Linked DNA regions of Homo sapiens: region 2 is linked to region 1. Evidence: fine-mapped expression QTL. A gene starts in region 1. The other region holds a variant in brackets. All regions are shown on one strand. Distances are from middle to middle.

The links. PIP is the estimated chance that this variant, and not a neighbour inherited with it, causes the effect.
Region 2: its variant is fine-mapped to the expression of LOXL2 in whole blood (TOPMed, PIP above 0.99).

The regions. Positions count from the first base shown.
Region 1 is chr8:23,396,134-23,412,605 of GRCh38, reverse strand. It overlaps LOXL2 (lysyl oxidase like 2), which reads left to right and starts at 8,486. Exons shown (of 14, transcript NM_002318.3): 1 at 8,486-8,652. RefSeq lists an enhancer at 1,991-2,110 and a silencer at 1,976-2,270.
Region 2 is chr8:23,458,430-23,474,901 of GRCh38, reverse strand. It overlaps ENTPD4-DT (ENTPD4 divergent transcript), which reads right to left. Exons shown (of 5, transcript NR_186533.1): 2 at 15,548-15,688. Among named protein-coding and RNA genes, the nearest start is that of ENTPD4-DT, 8.9 kb to the right of the region's middle. RefSeq lists an enhancer at 5,175-5,674. The variant A/G (reference allele first, on the strand shown) is at 10,624.

The DNA of each region.
Region 1 (16,472 bases):
CCATCAAGCCTGGACCAAACTTTTCATTTTGAAAGAGGATAGAAAAGGGGCACCCAAGGGACTAATTTTTAAAATCAACTTTATTATGGAGTAATTTACCTAAAATAAAGTCACCCATTTTAAGTGTTCAGTTTCATGAGTTTGGGACAAACACATATGCTAATATAAACACCACCACAATCAAGGAATAGGCCATTTCCATCACTACAGAAAGCTTCCTCATGCTCCTTCCCAGGCCACCTCACCCACCTCCAGCCTCAGGCCACCAGTGATCTGCTTTCAGTCCCTGCTGTTTAGTTTAGACTTTTCTAGAGTTTTCTAGAGTTATGACTGGATCATACAGTATGTCTCCTTTTTGTGGCTGGCTTTTTTGTGCATGTCAGAGTTGGGGGCAGGCATCCTGATATGTTTGAGATTCAACCATACTGTTTGCTATGGTTTGAATGTGTCCGCCAGAGTTCATGTGTTGGAAACTTAACCCCCAGTGCATCAGAGCTGGGTGTTGGGGTCTGATAAGAGGTGACTAGGTCATGACAGCTCTGTCCTCATGAATGAATTAATGTTATTTCAAGAGTGGGCTTTTTGTAAAGGGGACTCTGGCCCCCTCTTGCTCTCTTGCTTGCTCTCCCTTCCAAGTGCCATGCCCTTGGACTTCCCAGCCTCCAGAACCATGAGTCAAATATATTTCTGTTCATTTTAAATTACCAAGTCTGTGGTATTCTGTTATAGCAACAGAAAATGGACTAAAACAGTGTTGCATGTATTGGTAGTTCACTCAAAGGAACTAATTTCTAATTGCAAGATTTCAGATATGTTAATCCCCAGGAGAGGAAAGCACACTTTTTTTATTATTATTATGACTAGGACCTTCCCAGGCTGCTTGAGTTGTACTGATCCTGGTCCCACTTCAAAGCAGGGGAGGCACTGAGTGACATCACCCTGAACTGGACCCCAAATGGGCTCCAAGCACAGGAAGTTGTTGGAGGGATTGAGTCACTCCCAACTCAAGCGGGTGATGGAAAGGGCAAGTTAGTCATGTAACCTGGTCTCATGGAATGCTTCTCCCTCCCAGACTGAATTTCCTTCTTTGCTGAATACACAGGACTGCCCTGCATAGCCTTCTTCATTAGAGAAAGCTATGAGAAGCTTTGAGCTCCTCCAAGTAAACTGTTTCATACTCTCAAACAGGCTGTTAATGATGATGATTAATAATAAATTAAGCAAAAGAAGGCCAGGTGCAGTGGCTCATGCTTGTAATCCCAGCACTTTGGGAGGCCGAGGCAGGTCAATCACTTGAGGTCAGGAGTTAGAGACCAGCCTGACCAACATGGTGAAACCCCATGTCTACTAAAAATACACACACACACACACACACACACACACACACACACACACACACACACAAATTAGCTGAGCGTGGTGACGCACGCCTGTAATCCCAGCTACTCAGGAAGCTGAGGCAGGAGAATGGCTTGAAGCCAGGAGGTGGAGGTTTCAGTGAGCCGAGATTGCATCACTGCACTCCAGCCTGGGCAACAAGAGTGAAACTCTGTCTTAAAAAATATATGTAATAACAATAATAATAATAAAGTAAGCAAAAGAAAAGGAAAGGGATGAAGTTAGCACACTGTGGTTGACAGAATAATTTTACATCCTAGAAAATAGATTAAATGAAATTACACTTTTCAATGTAAAAACGTTGTGTTTCCTGGGAAAAAGGCAGATGCGTCCTAACCACTCCTGATTGCATACATATGCAATTTACAATTGTACTTTCTGAGCAGATTTGGAACTCTCCTGGGGCTTAGCTGACTTGGTCTGGGTCTGGTCTCAGCACCCCTGCTAAAGCCTCCTAGGGAAGGTGCTCGGGTTGACAGCTCTCTGGGCCTCTGGTTCCATGTCTGTAAACAAGATGCTTGGAGCACAATTTCTCAAGTTACCTGGCGGCTCTTTAGATCTTAACCCTTTAAATCTCTAGAATTTTAGGGTTTCAACCCCATTGGTATAGCTTGGCCCTGAAGAGAGCAAGCGCACATTGCCGTGTGAGAGACAGACCACTAAGGGGCGCTGCTTCCTCGGAGGAGGCGGGAGTTCTCCTCCTCCTCCGCATTCTCTCCTCTGATGAAACCACACTCATCAAAAGTGGTTGTGACAGAATGCTCAGATTTGGAATGATGAGAAACACGGAAGCCACATCATAGGACCTGATAGATATCTGGCCAACACAGGAACACTGGAATATGTGATCTATGTGACCATCCCCTTCCCAAGGCCAGATCGAACACCCACCCCTTGACATATACCAACGTTAATTGCTTAATGACACGAGGAAATACATTCTGAAAAATTCGTCATTAGGCGATTTTGTCATTGTGCAAACATCACAGAATGTACTTATGCAACCCTAGGTGATATAGCTTACTACACTCCTAGGGTATATGGGATAGACTGTTGCTCCTGCACTACAGATTTGTATAGCATATGACTGTTCTGAATACTGCAGGCATTTGTAACACAGTGGTAAGTATTTGGGTATCTAAACATATCTAAACATAGAAAAGATACAATTTAAAAAAATGATAAGGCCAGGCACGGTGGCTCACGCCTGTAATCCCAGCATTTTGGGAGGCCGAGGTGGGCGGATCACGAAGTCAGGAGATCGAGACCATCCTGGCTAACACGGTGAAACCTCGTCTCTACTAAAAATACTAAAAATTAGCCGGACGTGGTGGCGGGCGCCTGTAGTCCCAGCTACTCCGGAGGCTGAGACAGGAGAATGGGGTGAACCTGGGAGATGGAGCTTGCAGTGAGCGAAGATCGCGTCACTGCAGCCTGGGCAACAGAGCCAGACTCCGTCTCAAAAACAAAAAACAAAGAACAAACAAAAAAGATAGACCGGTTTAGGGAAGGCATTTCCCATGAAGGGAGCTTGCAGGACTGGAAGTTGCTTTGGCTGAGTCAGGGAGTGCGTGGTGAGTGAATGTACACTGTACACTGCTGTGGGCTTTATAAACACTGCACACTTAGGCTACACTCAATTTATACATAATACTTATTTTTTCAATAATAAATTAGCCTGAGCTTACTGTAACTCTTTTACTTTATAAACTTTTTAGTTTTTAAAACATTTTTTGACTCTTGTAATAACACTTAGCTTCAAACACAAACACTTTGTACAGCTGTACCAAATTTTTAAATTTCTTTAGTATTCTGTAAGCTTTTTTTCTATTTTAAAAATTATTTACTTTTGTCTGTGTTGTAAACTTTTTTGTTAAAGACGAAGACACAAACACGCACATTAGCCTAGGCCCGCACAGGGTCAGGATCATCAATGTCAGTCCTCCACCTCCACATCTTGGTCCAGGAAGGTCTTCAGGGGCGTTAACAGACATGGAGCTGTCATCTCCTAGGATAACAATGCCTTCTTCTGGATACTTCCTGAAGCACCTGACTGAGGATGTTTTACAGTTAGGCTTGTTTTTTTTTGTTTTTTTTTTTTTTGAGATGGAGTCTCACTCTGTCACCCAGGCTGGAGTGCAGTGGCACAATCTCGTCTCACTACAACCTCCACCTCCCGGGTTCAAGTGATTCTCCCACCTCAGCCTCCCAAGTAACTGGGATTACAGGCGCCCGCCACCATGCCTGGGCTAATTTTTATATTTTTTAGTAGAGACAGGGTTTCACCGTATTGGCCAGGCTGGTCTCGAACTCCTGACCACAGGTCATCCGCTTGCCTTGGCCTCCCAAAGTGATGGGATAACAGGCATGAGCCACTGCACCCGGACAGCTTTTTTTTTTTTTTAATAAGTAAAAGTACACCCTAAAATAACAATTAAAAGTATAGTATAGTAAATATATAAGCCAGTACCATAGTGATTTATTATCATTATCAATTATTATGTACTATACGTAGTGACATGTGCTAGACTGTCATATGACTGGCAGCTTGTATGTTGTTTACACCAGCATCACTACAAACACATGAATAATTTATTGCATGACAATGTCACAACAGCTATGGCGTCAATAGGAGAGAGAAATTTTTCAGCTCTATTATAACATTATGAGACCACCAAGTGATACGGGACCACCAACATATACCTGGACCATCATTGACTGAAATGGCATTATGCGGCACGTGACAATATTTCCAAATCACCTTCCCAGATGGCTGGATCAATGTTTGTTTGGTTGGTTGATTGGTTCCCCATTTAATTCAACAAATAGACCATATGGAGCCTCTTCTGCAGTTCTATAAATTTAACTACTCGTTTCTGCATTTTTATTCATCTAAGTAATCATTACTAATACCTACTAAAATTATTCCTACTTTCCCACTTCATCAGACGGGCCTTCCCTGGCCACCCCTACTGGACTAGCACCTGAGCCTCCTTCACCTTCTGTGCTCACCAGCTTTAGTCTTCTCTGTAGCACTCTGTCACCAACCGACTCCCACATTTCCTCATTTCTGTGTCTTTGTGTCTTGTCAGTCTCCTACTCTGGCATATAAGCACCATGAAGGCACAGACCGGCTACAGCATTGGCTGGGCCTCCCTGGAGCCTCAGGCTATGCCTACTGGGACATGCTATGCTTCTTTCAATCTAAGTCGGTCCAGACTGGTAGGAGAGTGATTTGGCAAGAGAGTGCAAAAGCCAAGGGAAAAAAAAGAAAGAATCGCCTCTAGCCTTTGACTCAGTAATCACATTCTGGGAATGGATCCTAATGCAGTAATTCACATGACCCCTGGGGATGGGGTGGACAGGAGGTGTTGCCTTCCCTCTCCCTGTGTGGGGTCTGAAGCCCTGAGGGACAAGGAGTCACTGTGCCCTCCTCAAAGATGCCCTCCTCACAACGCAACATTTATTGTCCAAGTACCATACGAGGGACTGTTCTGAGTCTGAGCCCATTCAGTCCTTTTACTCCTTTGGAGCTTTTTTTTTTTTTTTAACAGATACCGCTTTGTCACCCGGGCTGGAGTGCAGTGGCATGATCTCAGTTCAAATGCAGCCTTGACTTCCTGGGCTCAAGTGATCCTCCTGCCTCAGCGCCCCAAGTAGCTAGGACTACAAGCCCATACCACCACGCCTGGCTAATTTTTATATTTTTTGTAGAGACAGGGTTTTGCCATGTTGCCCAGGCTGGTCTCAAACTCCTGGACTCAAGCAACCCACCCACCTTGGCCTCCCACAGTGCTGAGATTACAAGCTTAAGCCACTCCACTCAACCTCTTAGGAGCATTTTGAGGCGCTTCTTACAGATGAAGCATGTGAAGGAAAAGGGAGTTCACATCAGTTAATGGTGGAGCCAAGATTTGAACCCAGGCCCCCTGACTGCACAAGCATGCCCTGAACCTACTGTACGACTCTGCCTCTGCAGCAGTGCAGGACCTGAGTGGTGGAGGTGGCAGGGTGGGAGGTGTATCCAGACTTACAGACATAAGGCATCCCGCCATCATTTTGTTTCATCTGGGACAAGGGTCTACTGTTGTCCTGAAGTAGTCTCCTAGGTCTTGATTTCAATTCAACAAAAGGGCATCAATAAAACACTCAGTGCAAACTTCAGATACTCTACTCATTTCCTCTTGGAAGTGAGGACATGGTAAGGCAGAGATGGACTTACTGAGGCCTCCAGTGTGGGCCACTAATACTTGCTGGACGAGTCAAGCTCCTTTTGGTTCTCCCAGCTCGGCCATTCCCTGCCTCTGTGACGCTGGGAAAATCACTTCTCTGAGCCAGGGCTTTCTCATCTGTAACAATTAGCAGGAACCACACTGTACCCAATCAATAAATATTACTTTCACAGGGGTAATTGTCATGGCGTAATTTACACTAGCAAAAAGCTGTAAACAACTGAATATCCAATAATGGAGAAATGACTCCATTGCACAATAATTTCAGACCAGAACTGTCTAAAACCATTAAAAATTACATTGAAAAATTAACACAAAATGATATAGTAAAAAAAATCAGAGGCCAGGTGAAGTGGCTCACGTCTGTAATCCCAGCACTTTGGGAGGCAGAGGTGGGTGGATCACTTGAAACCAGGAGTTCAAGGACAGCCCGGCCAGCATGGTGAAACCCTGTCTCTACTAAAAATACAAAAATTAGCCACACGTGATGGCACATGCCTGTAATCCCAGCTACTCGGGAGGCTGAGACAGACTTGGGAAGCTGAACCTGGGAGGGGGAGGTTGCAGTGAGCCGAGACTGCGCCACTGAACTCCAGCTTGGGAGTCAGAGCTAGAGTCTGTCTCAAAAAAAAAAAAAAAAAAAAATCAGGATACAAAAACTGTAACTACAATTTGGTTGAACAAATATTCTGAAGGAAAGACTCCAAACAGTAGGTGTTTATGGGTGATAAGACACCAGAGTGACAATTTCTTCCTTACATTTTACATATTTTCTGAATATTTCACAAGAAGTTTGCTTTTCTTTATAACAGACAAAAGATTATTTACAAAGTTGGTCTCCTTTCATTTTCTACCTTATTAGTGAATGCTTTAGCAAGAGAGGGTAGGACTAGAAGTGGAAGGATGGGAGATGGGGAAAGGGGAGAGCTCAGTTTCACCAGCATTTATTGAGCATCTGGTACGTCCAGGCACTGTGTAGGGTGTGACAGCTGAGTGAAAGCTCAATAACCAGGCATTACTGTGCAGAGAAGCCAAGGGAATGTCACGTTCAAAGGTCCTGGGGTGTGAAATAGAAGGCTTATAGGAGCACAGAAAGTAAGGCCCAGGGGGAGAGGTGAGATGTGGTTGGCAGTTGGGCAGGCTGGAAATGCCCCAGAGGCCCTGTCAGCTTAATCAAGGGATTCAGATTACATTTTTCTTTTTCTGAGACGGAGTCTCGCTCTGTCCCCGAGGCTGGAGTGCAGTGGCGGGATCTCGGCTCACTGCAAGCTCCGCCTCCCGGGTTCACCCCATTCTCCTGCCTCAGCTTCCCGAGTAGCTGGGACTACAGGCGCCCGCCACCACGCCCGGCTAATTTTTTGTATTTTTAGTAGAGACGGGGTTTCACCATGTTAGCCAGGATGGTCTCGATCTCCTGACCTTGTGATCCGCCTGCCTCGGCCTCCCAAAGTGCTGGGATTACAGGCATGAGCCACCGCACCCAGCCAGGATTCAGATTACATTTTGAGGACCTTGGAGCCACGGAGGATTTTTTTAAATTTTTAATTGAAATTTTATTGGGTGTATTACGTTCTATACAATTTTATCACCTGTGTGGTTTTCTGTATCTCAAGACACTGAATAGTTCCACCACCACAAAGATCCCTCCTCCTGCCTTTGATAACTACACCCCCTTCCTCTGACCCTTGCCCTCTACTGCCCACCAGAGTCAGGGACTGATCAGTGGGGAGGGTAAGGAGGAGGCAACGGAGAAGACCCCATATCTGCCTGGGAGAGCTCACAGGAGTCAAGGTGGACCGTGAGTTGCAGTGCCAAGTTTGGGGCTTGCCAGGTTAGCTACGGCCATGGGAATGTCCAGGTGAAAGTCTTTCGGGGCCAATGGATTTAAATATCCATGGCTTAGGAGAGAAGCCTGGGCTGGAGGTGAGATTTGGGAGGGGTTTGTCTCCTCAGGGAGTGGAGTAAGAGAGGACTGAGGAAGGAGCCGCCTTTCAGGTGACAGTCTACTTCTGCACAGGGGTCCCTTGTTTTGCAGCTCGCTGCCTCCTTGGGACTGGCAAAGCCCTGCTCTTGCTTAAGGAGCCCTCTCTGTGCAGAGGGCTCTCCCAGCATGCCCATCCCCCACCCGGAGCCTCAGAGCCAGGCACAGGAGGTCCTTCTGCACAATGGCCACGCATTAGCTGTGTCCTGTTCAGTCCCCAAGCACAGGGCTTGTTAATCCCAGCCCTACCATTCCAGGAAGGACCCCAGAGGTCACGGAATCCAAAGCGTTGAATTTACAAAGAAGAAAACTAGTCCTCGGAGAAGAGGCTTGGCCAAGGCCATAGACGTGATCTGCTGGCCGAAAGGGGGCTGTTTATTTACTGGTTCAGGATCGGTTTTCCCCCTACAGGAAAAGGGAGGTGAAACCCAGGCGAGATGGGTGCAAGTTTCTGAACACTTTCATTCGGCAGCTTTAATTGAGCGTGTATTATGTGCCAAGGAGGGCCAGGGTTTTCGGGATAGGAGGTGGACAAGGCACGGGCCCTAAGGCTGGTGGATAAGGACATCGAAGGGTTAAATTCTGGGACGGCTGCAGGGAGGAAAGGGTAGAGGAATCTCCCGAGGAAAGGCCCCCTTCCCGGCATCTCAGGCTCCGGAAACCCGGGCGCGAGGAGCCTGGGAAGGGCTGCCCCGCAGGCCTTGGCCTCCCCCGCGGAGCTCCCTCTGGCCCTGGGAGTGGCCGCTCTCGAATTACAACAAAAGAGGCCGGAGGCCGGGCCTGCTGCGGCGGCCGCCTTCGGGGAAGGGGGTGGGTCCGGGGAGGGGTTTGCCATCCTCCTCTAGTTAAAAGTAAGGGGGAAAAGAGTAAACGCGCGACTCCAGCGCGCGGCTACCTACGCTTGGTGCTTGCTTTCTCCAGCCATCGGAGACCAGAGCCGCCCCCTCTGCTCGAGAAAGGGGCTCAGCGGCGGCGGAAGCGGAGGGGGACCACCGTGGAGAGCGCGGTCCCAGCCCGGCCACTGCGGATCCCTGAAACCAAGTAAGAGCGCTTCCCGCGCCACCCCCTCCCCGAAGCGGTTCGCGAGAAAGCGGGAGCGTCCCTATGGGGTCTCCAGGCTTCGTCCTGCGCGGGGCTGCCTCTCGACAGTGCCTGGGGGTTCCCAAAGACTTCTTGCGGGGAGCGATGCGAGGACGTGCAGGCTAACGGGTCCTCCTGCCGCCCCGGGCGGCCCCGCCCAACCCCACCTCGTACGGGCCGGGCGCGGCGCGGCTGCTGGCGCGCCCGGGGAGCGAGGCGCTGGGTCCCTGGATCGTCCCGAGCGCCCGTAATCAGGCGGGACAGAGCCCGTCAAGTCTCGGTGTGTGCTGGGCGTCTTGGAGAGTGCAGCGTGGCTCCAGGGACAGCGTCTCCGGAATTCTGGCTTTGAGGAGTGGGGCACGCGGGGGACGGGTCGGGAGACAGTGACTGCCCTCGGGGCTGTGGTTTTGGGGATGTAGAGCGTGCTGGGCTGGGACGGAGTGGGGGCGGGGACCCCGGGGGCTGCGCCCGGGAGCTGTAGCGTCCACTGCTTGAACCCGGTTCAACCCCCAGCCTGCTCGAAAGGCTGTTGGGAGCGCGGGAGCGCCGTGAGTCCTGCGGGAGCAGAGGCGCTCTCGGCACGCCAGGTATGCACTCCCAAGTCGCCCTGCCTCTCCGGGGACCAGGGACCCTCTCCCGCCTTCATCACCTAGAAGCCCTGGAGTTGGAAAGAACGGGCACGAGCGAACCCACGGCTACAGCTGATCCCAATCTTGAGCCGTTGGTCCGGTGGTCTGAAGTGCCTACAACTTTTACGCAGGCGCTTTGCCCACCGCGCCCCTTCTCACCAGCCCAAATTTGGAAGCCCTCTGGGTGTGGCTGCCTGCTCGAGGTGTCCCAGGAATCAGCGCTGGAATAGAGATGATTGGGAGAACAAGCGAGGTTCCCTCCTCTCCGTGCCCGAGCTAAGACCATCAAAAAACAGCCGGAGTGCGGGGCGGAGCGGGGCGAGGGTGTGAGGAAGAGAACACCGCAGAACACGGCGAGGGAGGGGGCTGAACTACTCAATATGGTTAGGAAACCCCAAGTCCTGATGAGGGGAGAGATGTGCATGACAGAAACATGCTCCAAATTAGTTTCGTCCCTAAGATCTTGAAACTGCAGAGATCTCAAAAACAATACTTTTTTTTTTTTTCTCCCAGAGGAAGAAAAACGCTGAGGCTCACGGTCACTGAGTTAGTCAATGTGGGGACTGAAACCCATACCTCTTACTCCAGGCCCCTCCCCTACACCACTGCTAGCCTGTCCGTCCTGGAACCCCAAAACAACATTTGTCATCTTTGGTGGAATGAATTAGTTATTGATGGTGTATCATGTACTTAATGGTCAGGGTTGGGGTTTAGGGTGGAAGAGGAAGAGTTCATTTCCCTGGTCAGTTCCCAGATAAGTGACTGACTCACTGGATCCTAACTTGACTAAATTTTTAATCTTTCTCCTCACCTTTGTCCCGTTCCTCTTCCTGGTCCCTAGTATCTGCCCTGGAATGGCCACCAGAGCCATGACAAGATGCGTGCTCCCCATGGGCCCCAGTGGCTACCAAGGCTCTCCCCAAGGAAATTGAGTCTCACTAATCTGTGTGTGCACGCGCGCACGTTTGTGTATGCATGTGTGCACGTGTATGTGTGGGCACATGTATGTGTGCATGTGTGTGTCTCCACACGAGTGTGTTTGTGTATGTGTGTGCACCGGTGTGTGTTTATATGCGCACACAGGTGTGTGTGCGCGGGCACGTGTGTGTGCACGCAATGTGTGTGCATATGTATTCCTGTGTGCATGTGTGCACACCTGTATGTGTATATGTGTATTTGTGTTTGTGTGCATGTTTGCATGTGTATGTGTGTGTGCGCGTTTGTGCACTTGTGTGTATGTGTGTGCACGCATGTGTGCACGTGTGTATATGTATATGTGTGTTTGTGCATGCATGTGCATTTGCTTCCCTGTAACTTTGTGTTAGAAAGTGACTTAGTCTAAGGTCACTTAGGCATTGAGTGGCAAAGTTGAGTATGAAACTCAGGTCTGAAAACAAAACGTACTTAACACCACACATTGGCTGACATTTTAAGTATCACAGATAGGAGATTCTGCAAAGATGCTTCCTTTTATTTTCTTTCCAACTGGCCTCTCCTGGCCTCTTCCCAAGTCCTTGTCCTTTGACCTCTAGATGGCCAGTGTGGAAGGGCTTTGTGAAGGAAACAGATTTTCTGTGCTCTAGATAGACATGACCATCAGCGAAGGTGTTGAGTCCCAGAAAACACTACATTGTTTATTTTTTATTCTCAAAAAATTTCAAGTATGCAAAAAAAGTAGAGAGAAGGGTATAATGATGCCTCATAAGCTTCTCACTGAATTTCAACAGTTATTTTGCCACATGTACGTCATCTGTCCCTTTGTTTCTGTCATTGAAGTAGTTTAAAGCAAATCCTATACATCATGTCATTTCATTGCTACATATTTCAGTGTGATTTCTAAAGATTTTACATAACTATGATGCCATATTTAGACCTAAGAAAACTAAAAAAAAAATATTTGGTATCATCTAATGCCAAATAGCAGTCTATATTTAAGCATTTCCCAATTTTCCTCAAAATGTCTTTTTTTATAGTTGATCTGAGTTCTGTTGATTTGTGTAACTTGTTACATTCCTATTGTTATGTTCTTCCTTTCAAACTACTTTTCTGTCCACTATGTCATTTGATTCTTACAAGGTCCCACTAAAGAGTTAGGTGAGTATTTTCAAATTCATTTCTCAGCTGAGGAAATGGATAAACAGATAAGCTGTCCAGAGGGCACAGCTGGTGACCCAGGGAGCCAGGGTCTAACCCAGCCTCCTCATGGCTGGGCTTCGGTGGTTCTGGTTCTCCATGTTACTCGTGGACTCTCAGCTGCTCTCTGAAGAGTTCTTCTTGGCTCAGGCTTCATCCTGGGCTTATCACTTCCTATACACCTGCTGTCAGAAATCCCTGTGTAAATATTAGTAATTGGACATTTGGTGCTTGAGATAAATGAACTGCAAAATCAGGAAGCCAGGGTTTGTTTCCTAGCTCATTGCAAAACTGTAAGGGCTCAGAGCTGCCCTCTCTGAACTAGAGAGCAGTGTACTTCCTCATTATTTGACTCCAAGGTGTAAAAATAGGATGAGTGAAATGACTGTTGCTGGGATTCCTGGAAGAAACAAAGGCCCCAGAAAGAAATCTAGTAGAGGACAATCTCCCCTCTCTGAGCATCACCTGAGTACTCTGACAGCTGGTACCTTCATGCTGAAGCCCTCAAATCCTATGACAGAGAAGTAGGGGTATATAGGCTTCCCATTGAAGCCCTTAGTTTATGCATGACTTTATTCTGCATTTGACCAATGAAGATATGCAACACCTGATATGGCTTGGCTGTGTCCCCACCCAAATCTCATTGTGAATTGTAGCTGTCATAATTCCCATGTGTTGTAGGAAAGACCCGATGAAAGGTAATTGAATCATGGGGGTAGATCTTTCCCCTGAGAAGTAAATCTCGTGAGATATGGTTTTATAAATGGGAGTCCCCTGTACATGCTCTCTTGCCTGCCACCATGTAAGATGTTCCTTTGCTCTTCCTTTGTCTTCTGCCATGATTGTGAGGCCTCCCCAGCCATGTGGCATTGTGAGTCCATTAAACCTCCTCCCTTTACAAAGTACCCAGTCTCGGGTATGTCTTTATTAGCAGCATGAGAACAGACTAATACAACACCAGAGCCTTCTGCTTTTAGCATTTTCATTACTTAAGTTTATTTGCTTTTGAAATGGAGCGAAGAAGAAATTTCTCCACCTTGTTAATGAGACTCATAAGTTGGAATTCTCCTTTCTTGGCAGATCATGTGGGAAAAAGGAATCTCTTGGCACAGGACTCCTAGATGTTCTGCTGTTACGCTTGTTGCTTTGAAACAGGGAATGAACAGACCTTCCATAAAATAGCCAGTTAGAGGCAGAGAAACTGGTCAACCCGATTCCATCCAACGGGAGGAACTCCGAAGTGGCAAGACATTAACCTTAAATCACCCTGCCTTCTGACGGCCATAGATTCTTTTTCCTTAGCTAATAGGCTGTCTCCATGGAGGAAGAATTTCTAGGTGATTCCACACCAGCAGCTGCAGTTGCACAAGCATGACTGCTTCCTTCATTTTAAAGTTTGGGGAGCCTTAGGAGGTGTTTTAGTCCATTTTCTGTTGCTTATAACAGAATACCTGAAACTCGGTAGTTTATTAAACAAAAGGAATTTAGTTCTTACAGTTATGGAGACTGAGAAGTCCAAAGTCCAGGAGCTGTACCTGGTGAGGGCCTTCTTGCTGGTGGGGACTTGGCAGTATCCCAAGGTGATGCAGGACCATCGTGAGGGGGCTGAGCATGATAACATGCTAGCTCAAGTCTCTTTTCCTCTTGTAAAGCCACCAATTCCCTTCCCATGATAACCGATTCATCTATTAATTGGTGAATGGATTCATCAGTTTATGAGGGCAGAGCACTCATGATTCAACCACTTCTTAAAGGCCCCACCTCTCAAAACTGCCACATTGGGGATTAAATTTCAACATGAATTTTTTGGAGGGACACCTATTCAAACCACAGCAGGAGATATGATTTCCCATTCCCAGGGGCTGCCTGGCTTTAAAAGAGCAGCTTGTTACTGTCATCGTCCATTTCCCCCTGGAGAAAGGCTTTTGTGGTCGGTCTGCATGGCAGTCACACCCTGGGTGGTCCATGAGGCCTCAGATGAAGTGGCCCGAGGCCACTCTGCTCTAGGCCCACAGACAAGGCGGGAATAGCAGTTGCAGGCTAGAAAAGGAAGGGCCAACCAGACATTCACAGAGATGCAACCAGAGCAACACACAGCTGAGTCTCTTAAGTCTTCAGTCCTGTGTAAGTTGAAGCAAGACATCAGAAATCTCTCACCTGAGTAATTCCACACATGCACCCACTGCTGTCCAATGCAGTGCTTGCTCAGCAGGGAGCACCTCTTGGCCAAGCGTATTGGCAGCCCTTCTACCGTGACCAGCGTCAGGGACGTCTCTAGGCGCCTTTTCAGAATAGCTGGCAACATAGGGAGACCCAGTCTCTACCAAAAAAAAAAAATTAGCCAGGCATGGTATAGTCCCAGCTACTCAGGAGGCTGAGGCAGGAAGATTGCTTGAGCCCAGGAGGTCAAGGCTATAGTGCATTCCAGCCTGGGTGACAGAGTGAGACCCTGTCTCAAAAACAAAGAAAGAATAGCCACTTGGTTGATGATGATAAAGGATGCTGGGGACTGTGTAGTTCAGACTTCTGTCCAGAGTTTTAACAAATCTTTTGCACTTTCTGTGGCAGAAATACTATTACCAGGCAAGTAGTGTGTGTGGCAGATGAGAACAAGAACTAACTCAGCAGATGCTGAGGTTGTGGTTAGGAACACAGTTAGTAGGTTCTTCTTGTCCAGGGCTTTTGATCCCTTCACTTGGGATACCTTAAGTATTATATTTAATTATAGTCTTCTAAGCAAAGAGTGATGTTTTCTTTTTAGTTTTTTCATTCCTACGATCCACGTCAGACAAGCAGACACAGCTGGCCCTCTGGATGTCCTGTGGCAACAGACATATCCTCCTTGATGTGTTGCCAACAAAGTGCTGAGGGTATCTTCTGCAAAAATGATGCCACTTGCCTATAAAACATACACTTACGACAAGATAACTTATGGTGATGACTTGTGAACAACTTAATTTGCAGTTTCTTTATAATATCTTTCTGGAACTTGGATCCATGAACTTCTTTTGCCCCCAGGCTTGTCCTGATATACCACTGGGGTACCAAGGTAAACACAGTATAGCTCTTCAGAGTGCCTGCATGACTCGAAGATGTAGTGAGAAAGATACTTTTCTAAATATCTTTCTAAAACAATTACAAATATAAAATTGAGTAAAGCACATTTCTTTTTTTTTTTTTTTTTTTTTTTTTGAGACAGAGTCTTACTCTGTCACCCAGGCTGGAGTGCAGTGGTGCAATCTCAGCTCACGGCAACCTCCACCTTCCAGGTTCAAGAGATTCTCCTGCCTCAGCCTCCCGAGTAGCTGGGATTACAGGCATGCACCACTATGCCCACGGAAAAGCATATTTCTTTCTTTTTTTTTTTTTTTTTTGAGACAGAGTCTTGCTCTGTTGCCCAGGCTGGGAGTGCAGTGGCGCGATCTCGGCTCACTGCAAGCTCCGCCTCCCAAGTTCACGCCATTCTCCTGCCTCAGCCTCCTGAGTAGCTGGGACCACAGGCGCCCGCCACCATACCCAGCTAATGTTTTCTATTTTTAGTAGATACAGGGTTTCACCGTGTTAGCCAGGATGGTCTCGATCTCCTGACCTCGTGATCCACCCGCCTGGGCCTCCCAAAGTGCTGGGATTACAGGCGTGAGCCACTGTGCCTGGCCGGAAAAGCATATTTCTAAAGATGATTTCACCCACCCCAAGAATAGCATATCTAGGTAAAATCACATGATCCTAAGTATATACCCACATAGGCTTTTTGGGTTGCTTTTGTGTTTATTGTGGTAAAATATACGTAACATAAAACTCACCATCTTAACTATTTTCAAGTGTACAGTGCAGTGGCGTTAAGTGTGTTGACACTGCTGTGCTACCATCACCATCAGCCATCTCTGGTACTTTTGCATCTTCCAAAACAGAAACTCTGTACCCATTGAACACTAACTCCACTCTCCCCCTCCGACCAATCCCTGGCAGCCCCCATTCTACTTTCTGTCTCTGTGACTATGACTGAACTAGGTACTTCATATAAGTGGAATATATTATATTTGTCTTTTCGTGTCTGGCTCATTTTACTTAGCATGGCTTCCAGGTTTTTTCACGTTGTAACCTGTGTCAGAATTTCCTTCCTTGTTGAGCCTGAATAATATCCCACTGTATGGATAGACCACATTTGTTTATCTCCTCCTCCACTGGTGGACATGTGAGTTGTTTCCACCTTTTGGTGACTGGGAATAATGCTGCTGTGAACATTGGTGTACAAATGCCTGTTATGGATGAACTTTTACAAAGTGAACATGCCCTTGCTACTACATCAAGAATAGAACATTAGCAAGAATGCATGAATTTAAAGGCAAAGCAGGAGATTTCAAATACGTTTCATGCCCAAACATGGCTGCTTCAATTACACCTCAAGATCTTGGGACTGGATATTGATTTTCTCTACCATGAGGGGGTTTGGAAGAGATATTTGAAAGAACACAGTTAATAATCTGTGATTTGAAAGAGTCAGTTTATAATCACAGATTAGTTATGAGATTTAAGTAGCTCCTTTCCTTAAAACGTCTAGGGATGGGAGTACAACCTGTTGAGATTTGCAATTGTAGCTGTGTTAGGGTATCACCACTAGGATCATTCCAGGCTGCCCCTTGGCCATTGTAGGGTTCAAATCCACCTGGAGAACTCCTGCCTTTCTGGCAGCTTCTGCTGGAGCACAAGTCTAAGCCCATTCTTTGGCCGTATCCTGCCTGCCCTCCTCATTTCCTTCCTCCCTCCTTCCCTTCCCACCTGATCTCTCTCTCGTTTTTTTGTTTGTTTGTTTGTTTGTTTGTTTGTTTGTTTTTGAGACTGAGTTTTGCTCTTGTTGTCCAGGCTGTAATGCAATGGCACGATTTGGCTGACCGCAACCTCCACCTCCTGGGTTCAAGCGATTCTCTTGCCTCAGCCTCCCGAGTAGCTGGGATTACAGGCATGTGCCACCACACCCTGCTAATTTTGTATTTTTAGTAGAGACAGGGTTTCTCCATG
Region 2 (16,472 bases), 62 kb before region 1:
CAAGGCAGAGGATCGCTTGAGCCCAGGAGTTGAAGTCCAGCCTGGGCAACATAGGGAGACGCCGTCTCTACCAAAAAAATTAAATATTAGCCAGGCGTGGTGGCACGTGCCTATGGCAGGAGGCTCTCTTGAGCCCAGGAGATCGAGGCTGCAGTGACTGTGCCACTACACTCCAACCTGGGTGACAGAGCGAGACCCTGTTTCAAAAAAGCAGGAGTGCAGGGTACTGGATAGACATAATATCAGATACCCTCATCAGACAGACACAGAGGTCGGGAACGAGAGTGAAGGTGATACTGAGTCCCTCCAGAGGCTGGATTTGGACTTCTGGTGGTCACTGAGGAAGACAGGCATATGGGGCAAGATGAGGTTGGCACTGGCTTCTTAGGGAAACCCTCAAGTCACTCTTGAGTACCTGGAATACCTGGGTGGGGCCGTGGTCACAGCGCCATCTAGTGCCATGTCATGACGTAGCCGGGAAGCCAAGGGGGAAGATGCCCCCTTGAGCTCCTTTTGCTCCAAACAGCGTGGTCTACGAGGGGCAAGGGGCCGCTTGACAAATATTTGTAGGCAGCGGGGACATTTGGAGAGAAAAAGCTAAGGAAGATACAATGGCAGTTCTTGGCTATTTGAAGAACTGACCTCTGGGAGAGGGATGAAACTCACAGAACTAGCACCCTTAAGGGGAGCTAGAGGAAATTTGGGGTGAATGATGACAACTAGAACTGTCTAATGAAGAAACGGGCTTTCTTCCGAGGGAATGAATTCCCATCCCTGAAAGTGTTTAAGCTGTGATTTGGATGCCTTTAGTCAAAGATACGATATAAAGTCTCCTATATTGAGTGCAAGATCAAGCCACAACACGTTTAAGGTAGCTTCCAGATTATAATTATATGAGTTATTCACACTCTGAATGAGGAAGAAATCATTCACCGAATGGTGCAGTAGCTAACTTTGTCTTCAGTGTCCTTTCGCCTCCTTTTTGGGGCTCCTTTTTCCTGTCTCCAGGCACCTCTATTTCATACTTGGAAGCTCGAAGCTCTCATGAGGTCTACCGGCTCCCAGGCTTGCTTTCTAGACATAATAATATCCCCGTTGCAAAATTCATCCTCTTCTTCCCATAAAAACTTCTAGGATCTGACATACAGCCTATGATCAACAAATAATCCAGATGTCAACTCGCCTCTTGAATGTCAGAATTCAAGAAACGGAGCTCTGTTTGAGGAGCTATAAACTTAGTTATAAACAGCCAATATCATACATTTTTATTTAATTTATTTTTTTGAGACAGAGTCTCCCTCTGTCGCCCAGGCTGGAGTGCAATGGTACAATCTCGGCTCACCGCAACCTCCACTTCCAGGTTCAAGTGATTCTCCAGCCTCAGCCTCCTTAGTAGCTGAGATTACAGGTGCCCACCACCATACCCAGCTAATTTTTGTATTTTTAGTAGAGATGGGATTTCACCATGTTCGCCAGGCTGGTCTTGAACTCCTGACCTCAAATGATCTGCCCACCTCGGCCTCCCAAAGTGCTAGGGTTACAGGCATAAGCCACCATGCACGACCGATCATACATTTTTAATTACTTTTCATTTAGTAGCTTCTGTGTTCACTGTTAAATGTGTTTTCATTAATCTTGTCTCCTCCAGTTATTTTGTTAGACCCTGTGGGCAACAGTTTGTAATATAATCTTCTGAATCCTCCACAAAATTTGGTGTTTCAGTAATAGAATAGTTGATGAAGATCAATGTTTGCAAATTCCATTAGTGAGTTTGTTCCTCTGCATGGAGGATGTCAGGCGCTGTGATAGACAAGAACATGTAAAGGTGAATAAATAGAGCTCCAATTCACCTAGAATAGAAGTAAGATATAAAGCGCCTACTAAGTGCCAGAAACTGTGCCACACACATGACACAGCATTACTGCATTTTACTCAGGCAGTTTCATGAGGCAGGGATGGATTTCTAGTTTCATTTCATAAACTAGAAATTGAGGCCCGGAGAGGACTTTGCCTAGAAAGTAAGAGCCAAAACTCAAGCCCAATTTAGTATGCCTCTCCTTTTCCTATAAACAAATAAACAAAATAAATTACAAAACAAATTAGTTTTTACTGGAGAAGGTGCACGTTTCCTTTTGGGAGTCCCCAGAAACAAAAGGACCACATTTTCCCTAGGATTGGACCCAGGGAATGGAGAAGCAAAAACTTTCTAGTTTAGTCTTGATGGATACTCCAATGGAATCAGGCAAAACCAGGGGTGGGAGTGGCCGTGTCTGATGGAGGCGACTCTTGTCACCTCCCTGTCCCTGGCCACTGAGGCACCTCTGGACCGCTTCCTGCCGCCTTGCTGCCCCGCGGTGGAGAGCGCGAGCTCGGACGCCATCTAGTGGTGAGTCCGAGGCTTCACTGGAGGGCTCAAAGAGGATCTGGTGCCAACATGCGTTCATGATTCGCGAAGAGCTGGGATTCAGAGTCAAATGCAGTGGGTCCTGAATCCCAGGTCAGAGCCCATCATAGCATCCCAAAAGAAAGCCACTTGCTGCCTGTGTTGCGCTCAGTTCCATATTCCGGAGCTCAGTGGCTTCTCTCCACCCACACCCTTAACTTCCAGGCTTCTGGGAGAGATGCTCTCCTTATCCTTGTTTGTATTACACTTCCATTCATGTTAGTCACAAGTGAAAAACAAAAGCCTCAGCTAACCAAGTCTTGCAACTCCAAGACACACAGACACAGACACACAGACACACAGACACACACACACACACACACACACACACACACACACACTACAACTGTGGCAGGATCATTCATCACGCAGCCTCTCTAGGGGAACTTTTGCTAAATACAAGATCTAGGCGAGAAAAATCCAATACTCTGGGGAGGCGGATGGATGAGGCCCACCAAGGAGGAAGATGTCCTTGCAAAAGGAAGCTCTGCACACAGAGCCTAGGAACCAGAGACATTCTAAGCAGGTCCACCTTGAGGGCCTCGCTCCTACTCTCATCCCCTCTCTCTGCCTGACGCCATGCCAGGTCATGCCTCTGCCCTAGCCCCACCTTCCCACAGTAGCAGGCAGTTGTGCCGAGCTTGAAGAAGGGAGGCAGGCCTGGCCCTGGGGTCACAGGTTATGGACAGCCAGGCTGCACGGTATCCCAGAGAGCTTTCTCTGAATGCCTCCAGGGGATGAAGAGTTCTCTGAGCTCATTTTAATACTTGACTCACCCAATTTAGTCACTTGTTATATAAGTGGATAAATAATGTTATATGTTCCATGGGTGCATATATATACATTTTTAATTTTTTATTTCTATAGGTTTTGGGGGAATAGGTGCTATTTGGTAAAATGAGTAAGTTCTTTAGTGGTGATTTGTGAAATTTTGACGCACCCATCTCCCAAGCAGTCTAACTCAACCCAATTTATAGTCTTTTATCCCTTACTCCCTTCCTATCCTTTCCCCCTGAGTCCCCGAAGTCTATTATGTCTTTCTTAGGATGCATATATTTTTAATTAAAGAAATATATTCCCATTTTAGGTCTTGTAGTAGCCAAAATAATCCCTCTCTCCACCTCTCTCACTCCCACGCACGTCCCTGACCTAATCCTTGGATCCTATAATACATTACCTTACATAACAAAGGGGATTTTACAGATTGATTAAGGTTAAGGACCTTGAAATGGGAGATTAGCTTGGATTACCCAGGTGAGCCCAATGTAATCACGTGAGTCCTTTAACATCGGAGAGACTTTCCAGGCTTTGGGAAGAGAGAGTTGACCTTTGCTGACTGTGAAGATGGAGGAAGAGGCCCAAACAGCAACCAAGCAACGATCTCTGGAATTTGGAAGTGGCAAGGGTGGTCTCTGGAAGTTGGAAGTGGCAAGGAAGCAGATTCCCGCTACAGCCTCCAGAAGGGTATGCAGCCTTGTGGCTGGTGAGACCCTTTTAGGCCCATGTCAACCTAACTGTAGGGTAATAAACTTGCATTGTTTTAAGCCACTAAGTTTGTGACAGTTTGTTAGAGAAGCAATCAAAGCTATTAATAGAGGTCTCACTTAGGCTTTACGATCACACAGTTTCATTTAACATCAAAGCACGAACTGCCTGGAGCTATGCTGCCTCTCAGAGACTTTGCATTATGGTAGGCCACATTTTTGGATTTTGCTTCAGGACCTAAGAGGAAAGGCATCATTTCTGTTAATAATCTACTTTATTACTCAGAAACCAGAAGATCTACTCTGTTCCACCTAACGGAGATGGCCGCTAGTGCTCCAATGAATGTCTTCAGACCCTTCAAAGAGATCTCAGCTAGGGGCCTTTGGAAATGGCCTCTGTGCCTTTTATGGTTAACTAGAACATATCCCGTGAATATGTTCTGTAGAGAGGGCAAACCCTTGAGAAACACACACTGAATCATAAAATTGTCCACACCTCCCAAATGCAGTAATTCCATTCTTGGGAATTCATTCTAAGGCACTTAATTTCAAAGGTTCTAAAAAATGTGCATGCAAATTTTTATGATAATATTATCTACAATAGTAAAAACAGCAAAGGAAACAGTCAAAATTCAAACTAAATGAAACCTTTAATAAATTATGATTCTCTGCTGGTACGGAAACATTAAAAATTATAATTGTTTTTACTCTAGAAGCATAGGGAAATGTTCCTATTACACTCAATGAAAGCAGTGTATTAAAAAATAGCATTCAGGCCAGGCACCGTGGCTCATGCCTGTAATCTGAGCACTTTGGGAGGCCAAGGTGGGCAGATCACTTGAGGCTAGGAGTTCGAGACCAGTCTGGCCAACATGGTGAAACCCCATCTCTATTAAAAATACAAAAATTAGCCAGGCAAGGTGGCGAGTGCCTGTAATCCCAGCTACTCAGGAGGCCAAGGCATGAGAATCACTTGAACCCTGGCCAGCAGAGGTTGCAGTGAGGCAAGATCATGCCACTGCACTCCAGCCTGGGCAACAGAGCGAGACTCTGTCTCAAAAAAAAAAAATATTTATTCAATAATCATTTGTTGGCCACATGCTATGTATCAAGTATTGCACCAAGCACCAAGTAATGAAAGGGCACCAAAATAAATACATTCACTGCCCTTGTAGATTGAAGTATGCCACAATGGCAAAAATGTAAAGTGATCTATTCAGGTGGCCAGTGACATACCAAAAAAAAAAAAAAAACAAGCAAGTTGTTTTGTTAGAGTATAGTTAATATTCTAATTAACTTTCTTACATTACCTTTTCAGTTATGATAATTATATTAAAGCATAGGGCAGAAAGAAAACACAGACCTCTTGATCCAAGTCACGATGCAGTGGACTCCTCACTGAGGAAGCCGGCCCTGAAAGCATTGTTTAGAAACACAACAAACAACAGCCTCTTCCCCAGCAGGGGAGCAGGAAGCCAGCTGTACACACAGGTCACTCCCAGGGGGTGGTCAGCTTTGGGAGGCCACCTTTGAGCCTGAACTGACACCCTCTGTGTATGTGTATCTGGGAAACTTTCATAGGACTGACTAAGCATGGCCCTGAAAGACAGTAACTCCTGTCTCTGCCTGTCCCCCAGCTGCTGAGAGGATAACTATGAAAGCAGATGTGTTGGCCGGGCATGGTGGCTCACGCCTGTAATCCCAGCACTTTGGGAGGCCGAGGCGGGTGGATTATGAGGTCAGGAGATCGAGACCATCCTGGCTGACATGGTGAAACCCTGTCTCTACTAAAAATACAAAAAGTTAGCCAGGTGTGGTGGCAGGCGCCTGCAGTTCCAGCTACTCGGGAAGCTGAGGCAGGAGAATGGCATGAACCCGGGAGGCGGAGCTTGCAGTGAGCCAAGATCGCGCCACTGCACTCCAGCCTGGGCGACAGAGCAAGACTCTGTCTCAAAAAAAAAAAAAAAAAAAAAAAAGAAAGCAGACGTGCTGCCTTGCTCATCATCGTTTTTATGCTGCTGTCGGTGTGGGGCAAGCCACATACACTGCCCTCCATCTCCCTTAGTGGACAAGGAGACTCTGAGCTTGTTCGTTTCTTTTTTGTTTGTTTGTTTTGTTTTTGAGACAGAGTCTCCCTCTGTCGTCCAAGCTGCAGTGCAATGGCATGATCTTGGCTCACTGCAACCTCCGCCTCCCGGGTTCAAGCAATTCTTCCATCTCAGCTGCTCGAGCTGGGATTACAGGCAGCCACCATCACGCCTGGCTAATTTTTGTATTTTTTAGTAGAGATGGGGTTTCACCATGTTGACCAGGCTGGTCTTAAACTCCTGACCTCAGGTGATCCACCAGCCTCAGCCTCCCAAAGTGCTAGGATTACAGGGTGAGCTTGTTCATTTCTAAAGTGCTTTCTGAAACTGCAGCTACCGGAGCTGTCCTGGGCTCTAGGCCAAGTAAGAGGAAACCCAGGTAGGCACAGCCCCTGACCACTGGATTCGAATCTGAAGACACCTTTAGGATGGTACAGACATGAAGAACATTTGGATCACCAAACAACTATGGAGCAAATGACATGAGTGAAAGAGAGACTCGTTAGCAATGTACATTAATTGTCCAACAAGTAGCATAGTTTGATTAGGAAGGGCATTTATAGAGATGTGTTATTCTCCCTTGACTTACCATCCACTATCATATTAGGAGGCGCGGTTTAATAATGATTCACAGTGGACTTTGTATCAATTCTTATTACATATCAAGCTTTGTACTTAGCACTTCATTTGGATTATTTCATTTAATTCTCACAGCAATCCAAACAGGTGGATAATGCTATCTCCATTTACCATTGAGAAAATGGGAGCTTAAAAAAGTAATAACATGGCCAGGCACAGTGGCTCATGCCTGTAATCCCAGCACTTTGGGAGGCCAAGGCGGGTGGATCATTTGAGGTCAGGAGTTTGAGACTAGCCTGGCCAACGTGGTGAAACCCCATCTCTACTAAAAATACAAAAATTAGCGGCGTGTAGTGGTACACACCTGTAATCCCAGCTACTTGGGAGGCTGACGCAGGAGAATTGCTTGAATGTGGGAGATGGAGGTTGCAGTGAGCCAAGATTGTGCCACTGCACTCCAGCTGGGTGACAGAGTGAGACTCTGTCTCAAAAAAAAAAAAAAAAAAAAAAGTAATAACTTGCCCAATGTCTCATAAGTGACTAATGGTTCAGTTCTTGGAAGTCCAGGTTGAGGACTTCATGCATTGTCATTACAATTGGAACTTTGTGTCTGGTTATTTCTACTTGTTCTTCCAAATCCAGCACATGAAACAGCCCACCCTTCCCTCCCACTGCCCCAACTCCAACCAGTCTCCAGCCTTCTGTGCTCTGTGTCTCTGTGATCTGTGATTGCTGCCCATGTGATGTCCCTGCTGCCAGCCCCTTGGTCTTAGACCTCCCAGTCTCTAGGATCATGAGATAATACATTTTTTCTTTCCTTCTTTTTTTTTTTTTTTTTTTTTTTTTGGGACAGAGTCTTGCTCTGTCACCCAGGCTGGAGTGCAGTGGTGCGATCTGGCTCACTGCAACCTCCGCCTCTTGGATTCCAGCGATTCTCCCACCTCGGCCTCCTGAGTAGCTGGGACTACAGGTGTGTGTCGCCATGCCCAGCTAATTTTTATATTTTTAGTAGAGAAAGGGTTTCGCCATGTTGGCCAGGCTGGTCTCGAACCTCTGACCTCAAGTGATCCGCCTGCCTCAGCCTCCCAAAGTGCTGAGATTATAGGTATGAGCCACCTCGCCCGGCCATAAATTTGTTTCTTTTAAAATCTAAATTTCATTATAAATTACCCAGTTTGTGGTATTCTGTTAGAGCAACACAAAATGGACTAAGACATTCCCCATTTCTGGGTATACATCCAAAGGATTAAAAGCAGAGTCCCAAAGACACATTTGTATACCCATATTCATAGTGGCATTATTCACAATACTCAAAGGTGGAGGCTACCCAGTGTCCATCAACAGATGAATAGGTAAATAAAATGCAGTATATCCATACAGTGGAATATTATTTGGTCTTAAAGAGGAAAGACATTCCAACGCATGCTGCAACACAGATGAACCTTGAGAACTTTATGCTAATTGAAATAAGCCAGTCACAAAAAGACCAATGCTGTAGAGTTCCACATATATAAGGTATCCAGAGTAGTCAAATTTATAGGCAGAAAGCAGACTGAGGGTTGCCGGGGGATGAAGAGAGAGGAATGGGGAGTCGTTTAGCAGGTACAGAGTTTCAGTTTTGCAAGATGAAAAACTTCTGGAGATTGGTGGCACAATAATATGTATACACATAACATTACTGAAGTGTACACTTAAAAATGATCAAGATGGGCAGGGTGCGGTGGCTCACGCCTGTAATCCCAGCACTTTGGGAGGTTGGAGCATGAGGATCATTTGAGCCCAGGAGTTTGAGGTTACAGTGAGCTACTATTGTACCACTGTACTCCAGCCTGGGTGACAGAGACTCTGTCTCTAAATAAATAAATAAATAAATAAATAAATTTAAGATGGTAAATTTTATGTTATGTGTATTTTACCACAATTTTTTTTAACAAAAGAGGAATCCTTCCTCCTCTTCACATTTATCGTTCTCTTTGTGTCTTCAGTCACATCTCATGCCACCTCTTCCAGGAGGTTTATTCATTCCTTCTGCGTTCTCCACTCTGGGATTGCCACAAACATTTGGAGGGTCAGGGCTAAGAGGACACACCCATGTTTTAAGATGTTTAAAATGATAAATTCAGATAAACTAGTAAATCAAATGTTATAGCCCCTCTAATTTTTACTTTTTTGCATTTATTTTTAAATCTATATATTAAATCTATATATCTTTGTAACAACAACATGGAAAAGTCTGTAATACTGTGGTTTCTGTAAGACTGAAAGTCAGGCAAGTATCAAGGCTCAAGCTCTGTCCTGAAGCCCCACACTCCCCACTCATCCTCCCAGCTGCTCAGGCCAGCCCACAGCCTTGGGCAACAGCAGAGGCTTCTACAGTCAAGGCCATAGGGCTACATTTTCCTGGGGTAGCTACAGAGCTGCTTCTAGGGCGTGGGACCTGTGCAGTCAGTCACAGATGGCTGGCACTTAGAAAAGCCCTGCACTGATCGGATCATGAGGTCAGGAGTTCGAGACCAGCCTGACCAACATAGTGAAACCCCATCTCTACTAAAAATACAAAAATTAGCCAGGCATGGTGGCACGTGCCTGTAGTCCCAGCTGCTCGGGAGGCTGAGGCAGAAGAATTGCTTGAACCCGGGAGGCAGAGGTTGCAGTGAGCCGAGATCACACCACTGCACTCCAGCCTGAGCAACAAGAGTGAAACTCCATCTCAAAAAAAAAAAAAAAGAAAAGAAAAGAAAAGAAGGCACAATTGGGAAACAAGCAAATAGTCCATTAAACATGTTAGAACACAGCGAAAATATATATAGGGAAGTGTCTGGACATCAGGCTTAAAAGTTGAAAGCAACTTAACCATGGCCTTGGGGTGTCATGCCAAGGAGACTAGTGTGAAGCCATCCTGTCCATGACATCTGGTCACCTCATCGATTTGCAGTTGATTTGCTCAGGAATTTCAACCTTAACTTAAAGGTGATGGTGCAGTAGGGAAGGATGGTGAGAGGAAGAATGGTATGTTATCTGGTGTGAGAAAGGAACAGAGAGAGGTTTAAGGTGTCCAATAAACTACCCACTGCTTCCTGCTTAAGTCTGAATAATTTTAGAAATGAAACAAAAACTATATGAAAACCTGTGAAAGGAAAATATCTTGGGGCCCCAAAATCACTAAGCCAAAGGGAAAATTCAAGCTGGAAACTGCTCAGGGCAAACCTGCCTCCCATTCTACTCAAAGTCATCCCTCTGCTCACTGACATAGAGGCATATTCTGATTGCCTCCTTTAGAAAGGCTTATCAGAAACTCAAAAGAATGCAACCCCTTTTCTCTCACCTACCAGTGATCTGGAAGACCCCTCCTTGCTTTGAGTTGTCCCCACCTTTCTGGATGGAACCAATGTATGTCTTACATATATTGATTGATGTCTCATGTCTCCCTAAAATGTATAAAATGAAGCGGTGCCCCAGCCACCTTGGGCACATGGCGTCAGGATTTCCTGAGGCTGTGCCATGGGCGCACATCCTCAACCTTGGCAAAATAAACTTTCTAAATTAACTGAGACTTGTCTCTGATTTTCTGGGTTTACAAACCAAAGTATCATCTTTATCACAGATGAAGCTGATATTGAAAAATGGAGCTTTTATCTAATCAGAACAACATTGACTCGTGCCAGTCATCATGATCAGGAGACAAAATTACCTTGCTTAACCAGGCCAGGGTCATAATTTCTGACCCAAATGGACCAAATATGACCTGAGTATATTCCTTCAGAAATCTGAGGTACTGTTACCAAAACTAGAGTGATGGGGCCCGAGCAGCAAAAGCAACTATGTCTGCTGCCTACGTGTGTGTGTGTTTTGTGTGTGTGTGTGTGTGTGCATGTGTTTGTGTGTTCAATTACCCATCTCCCATGTGACTCCTTTATGGTACAGTTTGATCACTCTGCTTTGATGAGAAAAGTTTGGAGTAAACCCAGGATTTAGGGCCAGACGTTGTGGCTCACGCCTGTAATCCAAGCACTTTGGGAGGCCAAGGCGG[A/G]CAGATCACCTGAGGTCGGGAGTTCGAAACCAGCCTGACCAACATAGAGAAACCCCGTCTCTACTAAAAATACATAACAATTAGCCCAGCGTGGTGGCGCATGCCTGTAATCCCAGCTACTCGGGAGGCTGAGGCAGGAGAATCGCTTGAACCCAGAAGGCAGAGGTTATGGTGAGCCAAGATCGCGCCATTGCACTCCAGCCTGGACAACAAGAGTGAAACTTGGTCTCAAAAAATAAATAAATAAATAATTTTTAAAAAAATTTGGAGGAAACCCTGGATTTTGATGTTGCTTTGAACAAGTCACTTTCTCTTTCTCTCCACAACAAAACACCATGAAATAAAAATCCCTTTGCCTTAGGAATGCTGGGCTCATAAATGAGACCATGCCTGTAAAGTGACATGATTTCCTGAAGACAAAGGCTGTGTAAATATATAGGATTATTAGCCAAGCCACTCAAAAATAGTCTGTGCATGAATGTCTTGGAAAGCAAACAGGTCCAAGGAAGAGTAAGAGAACTCCCCATTTCCAAGCGCTGCAGGATTCCTTTGTTTCCTGACATCTAGCATGGTTACCTTCCCCAAACACCCACACACAGCCAGGAGGGACAGGTGAGCCAATTTAGCTTCCTTGGAATGATGGATTAAAACATTTGGAGAGCAGAATTTCAAGCAATTGCCATGTTAGAGGGTTTTCTAGAAAGATAATTAAAGAGAAATCATAATTGGGTTTTAGATATTGATGGTTGTTCATCTGCCCTACTCCATTCATCAACATTCCCATATACACTGTTACAAAGAAATCTCAAGTTCAACAAGAGAAGGAAAGAGGTCTTCTATCTTATGTTTGATTTTTTTTTTTTTAAGTTTTCTTTGGAGACAGGATCTTGCTCTGTCACCCAGGATGGAGTGCAGTGGTGCGATCACAGCTCACTGCAGCCTCAAACTCCTGGGCTCGAGCAATCCTCCCACTTTCACCTCCCAAAGTGCTGGGATTATAGGCATGAGCCCCTGTGCCTGGTCCTTATGTTTTGTTTCTTAAGAAGAAAGAGGCCGGGCATGGTGGCTCACACCTGTAATCCCAGCACTTTGTGAGGCCAAGGCGGGCGGATCACGAGGTCAGGAGATCGAGACCATCCTGGCTAACATGGTGAAACCCCGTCTCTACTAAAAATACAAAAAAATTAGCCGGGCCTGGTGGTGGGTTCCTGCAGTCTCAGCTACTCGGGAGGCTGAGGCAGGAGAATGGCGTGAACCCAGGAGGTGAGCTTGCAGTAAGCTGAGAATGTGCCATTGCACTCCAGCCTGGGTGAGAGAGCTAGACTCCATCTCAAAAAAAAAAAAAAAAAAGAAGAAGAAGAAGAAAGAGAAGGACGGAAAAAAAGAGGGAGAAGAAGAGACTGTCTTAGTTCATTTGTGCCACTATAACAAAGTACCACAGACTGGATAATTTATAAAGGACAGAAATATATTTTCTCACAGTTCTGGAGGCTGGGAAGTCCAAAGCACATTTTCTATCTGGTAAAAACCTGTTCCTCAAAGATTGAGCTATATAGGTATCCTCATCTGACAGAAGGTATGGAAAGACAGAAAGGGGTTGAGTGCTAAGTACTTACAGGGCAGAAGAGCAGAAGAGAGTAAACACGTTTCCTCAAGCCCTTTTATAAGGTCTCTAATCCTACCCATGAGGGCTCCACCCTCATGACTTAATTAATGCTGAGAGGCAGAACCCCTTAATGCTAATCACATTGGTCATTACGTTTCAACACATGAAAACTGGGCGGCACATTCAGACCACAGCAGGGAGGGAAAGGAGAAGAGAGAAAGGGAAAATCTTACTTCTAGTCTTCTCTTTTGCCTCTTAGAAATCATAGATTTTAGACCTGGAAAGAACGTTAAAGGTCAGCTTAGCCATCTCCACAAACCCCTTTCCTTTTACAAATTATATATGGATGGTGAGGACCAGTAAGGCAAACTACAATTTCTAAGCTTACACAGTCTATTGAGGATAAGGATTCAGGTTTCCTGCCTCCCGGCTTGGTACTTTTTACATTAAGTCATCCTGTCTCCCATTTAGTTTTATAACCTTGAGCAAGTCACCCAACCAGTCAACAAATATTTTTAAAGACCTAACAACAAGTAATGGAATATCCAACCAAAAGAAATTTAAACAAATAAAGAGCTTATTTTTCTCTCCTAATAAGAAGTCAGGGGGTAGACACAGTCACTGGTACTAGTTCAGCGGTTTAATGATGCCATCATGGACCCAAACAGTTCTATCTTTCAGTTCCATCGTATTTATTGTTGGCTCTTATCAGGATGACTGTTGTCCCATGGTTGCAAAATGGTCATGTATCTCCAGGTATCACATATTTGTTCAATATTTCATTTAACACTTTTAAAGTCCCATGCACAAAATGAGTTACTTTGATTTTACAACCATGATAGCTGTATTCTTTGTAGATGCTCCATCAAGCTGAGGAAAATCATACCCTTTATAGTTGATAAAGGCTTTTTTTCAAAATTATGAATGGGTGTTGAATTTTGCCAAATTTTTTTTTGCATTGACTGAGATCATACGAATCATATGAATTTTCTTCTTTATTCTGTTTATGTAGTGAATGACATTGATTGATTTTCAAATGTTGAGCCAATTTTGCATTCCTCAAAAAAGAATCCCACCTGGTAATGCTATCTTGCTCTTTCAGATGTCGCTGGATTTGATTTGCCAATTTTGTTTTTGTTTTTGTTTTTTTGAGATGGAGTCTCACTCTGTCACCCAGGCTGGGTGCAGTGGCGCAATCTCAGCTCACTGCAACCTCCACCTCCCAGGTTCAAGCAATTCTCCTGTCTTACCCTCCTGAGTAGCTGGGATTAAAGGTGCCCACCACCTTGCCTGGCTAATTTTTGTATTTTTAGTAGAGATGGGGTTTCACCATGTTGGCCAGGCTGGTCTCAAACTCCTGACCTCAGGTGAGCCACCTGCCTCGGCCTCCCAAAGTGCTGGGATTACAGACATGAGTCATTACACCTGACCTTGATTGGCCAATATTTTGTTAAAATTTTTGCACCTATGTAAGAAATATAGGTGTGTGATTTTCTTTCCTTTTTATTTCTTGGTATCAGGATTATTCTGAATTATAAATTAAAAAGTGTTCTCTCTTCCTTTGTTCTTTCAAAAGAGTTTATATAAAATCAATATTACCTTTCTTAAATGATTGATAAACATTTACTAGTGAAGCCATCTTGCTCTGGAATTTTCTTTTTAGGACCTTAAAGATATGGGGTGATTCAAATGTTCTATTTCTTCCTGTGCCAGTTTTGGGAAGTTGTATTTTTCAAAGACTTTTTCCATTTAATGTAAATTATCGAAATGATCAGCATAAAGTTATTCATAATGTTTTCTTATTATATTTTCAATTTCTGTATATCTGTAGGGATCTTCCTCTTTTATGCTTGATATTTGTTATTCGTGTTTTTTTGTCCTGCTCAATCTCACTAGGAGTTTAGCAATTTTGTTAATATTTTCAAAGAACCAACTTGTAAGTTGGTTAATGTCTCATATTATTTTTTATTATTTTTTTCCTCCTATTCACTTCGAGTTTAATTCACTTTCTTATTCTAATGTCATAAGGTGGAAACTTAGATAATTGATTTCAAACCTTTTTTCTTTACTAAAATAAACTTTTAAAGCTATAAATTTCTCTTGAAGGACTGTTCTGACTGCATTCCACATATTTTGATGCAGTTTCATTATCATTCTGTATGCCGTGTTTTCTAACGTTCTTACAACCATGCCTGGCATAAAGTACTTAGTAAGTGTTCCCTCCTGTTAGCTCCAGTTTTTGTTTTTTTTTTTTTGAGATGGAGTCTTGCTCTGTCGCCCAGGCTGGAGTGCAGTGGTGCGATCACAGCTCACTGCAAGCTCCGCCTCCCGGGTTCACGCCATTCTCCTGCCTCAGCCTCCTGAGTAGCTGGGACTACAGGCGCCTGCCACCACGCCCAGCTAATTTTTTGTATTTTTTTTTAGTAGAGACAGGGTTTCACCGTGTTAGCCAGGATGGTCTCGATCTCCTGACCTCGTGATCCACCCGCCTCGGCCTCCCAAAGTGCTGATATTACAGGCTTGAGCCATCGCGCCCAGCCTAGCTCCAGTTTTTGTTTCTCTTGTTAACAAGTGAGAATGGGCCCCTTCAGAGCCTCTTTGCTGTTTCCACTGACTGAAATACTATTCCTTCATATAGGCCCAGAATTCTAATAAATTCCCATTCATTGTGCAGGTGTGACCTCAGACAGCGTTACCTCAAAGAAGCTCTCCCTGATGAACCAGACCAGGATGGTCCTCTCATGTACTAAGTTGAATAGTGACCACCCCCAAAAAATTCATGTCCACCCAGAACCCATGAATGTGACCTTATTTGGAAATAGGATCTTTGCAAATATAATCAAGTTAATATGAGATCATAAGATCACACTGGATGAGGGTGAGCCTTGAATCTAATATGGCTGGTGTCTTTATGAGAAGAAAGAAACTTGGAGACAGAGACACAGACACACAGAGATAATACCATGTGACAACAGGGGCAGAGACCAAAGTGATGCATCTACAAGCTGAGGAAGGCCAAGGATGGCCAGTAGCCACCAGAAGCTAGGAAGAGGCAAAGAAGGATCCTCCTCTAGATCTTTAGAGAGAGCACAGCCCTGCTGACACCTTCATTTCAGGCTTCTACCATCTAGAACTGGAAGACAATAAATTATCTTGCTTTAAGCCACCCAGTTTAGGGCAATTTGTCACTGCAGCTCTAGAATGTAATATGCCAAGTTACACGTTTCCATACTTTCCTATATTTTTCTTTCCTAGCTCTTATCAGACAATTATTACATATAAATTATCAGGAAATATGGATGGTGTGATAATACTTACTAGTCTGGCTTTTCTTCTCTCTCTCTCTGAGATGGAGTCTCACTCTGTTGCTCAGGCTGGAGTCCATTGGCGTGATCTCGGCTCACTGCAACCTCCACCTCCCGGGTTCAAGCAATTCTCCTGTCTCAGCCTCCTGAGTAGCTGGGATTACAGGCACAAAAAAGCCACTATGTCCAGCTAGTGTTTGTATTTTTAATAGAGATGGGGTTTCACCATGTTGGTCAGGCTGGTCTTGAACTCCTAATTTCAGGCAATCCACCTGCCTTGGACTCCCAAAGTGCTGGGATTACAGGCATGAGCCACCATGCCCGGCCTAGTCTGGCATTTTAGTAGAGCCCTCCTTAAGGAAGACTAACATAACCCCAACCAGTGTCTCCAATGGCAAAGATTTTGAAAGGCAGATAATTTCGAAGGAGACTGTCCTTAAAATCACAGTATGTCAGTGGCCAGCTTTAGCTTCTCAATGCTAGCCTTGGGTCACAGGGTTTTCTAGTGTGAAAATTATCCAAACGAGTAATTTCTTATAGCAACAGATTGTCAAAAAAAAGACACTGATGCGCAAGTCATGTGGGAGTCTGAAACATTGGTTCTGCTCTCCTCTGCCTCCAGGGGGTCTTGGCCAAGTCACTCAACCTCTCTGGGTTCCAGGCTCTTAACTGTAAAAGAAGGTGATTGGGGCTACACAGTAGAGTCCCTTTGGCTCTAACCTTCTGAGGCTTCATGGTTTCTTCCGTTAACAGTAGCTGAATCCAGGAAGAGGAGGTGACCCAGGCGGGTGCTGGACCAAGAAGGATTCTGTGTTAAGATGTAGAACTGCCAGTTCTGTCTATGCTTGTTTTACTTGATAAATGGAATGGAGTAGACGTTTCTAGGGCTCTTGTTTTTAAAAATCTTTTAAAGTGGCTGGATTGCTGGTCACTTCCTA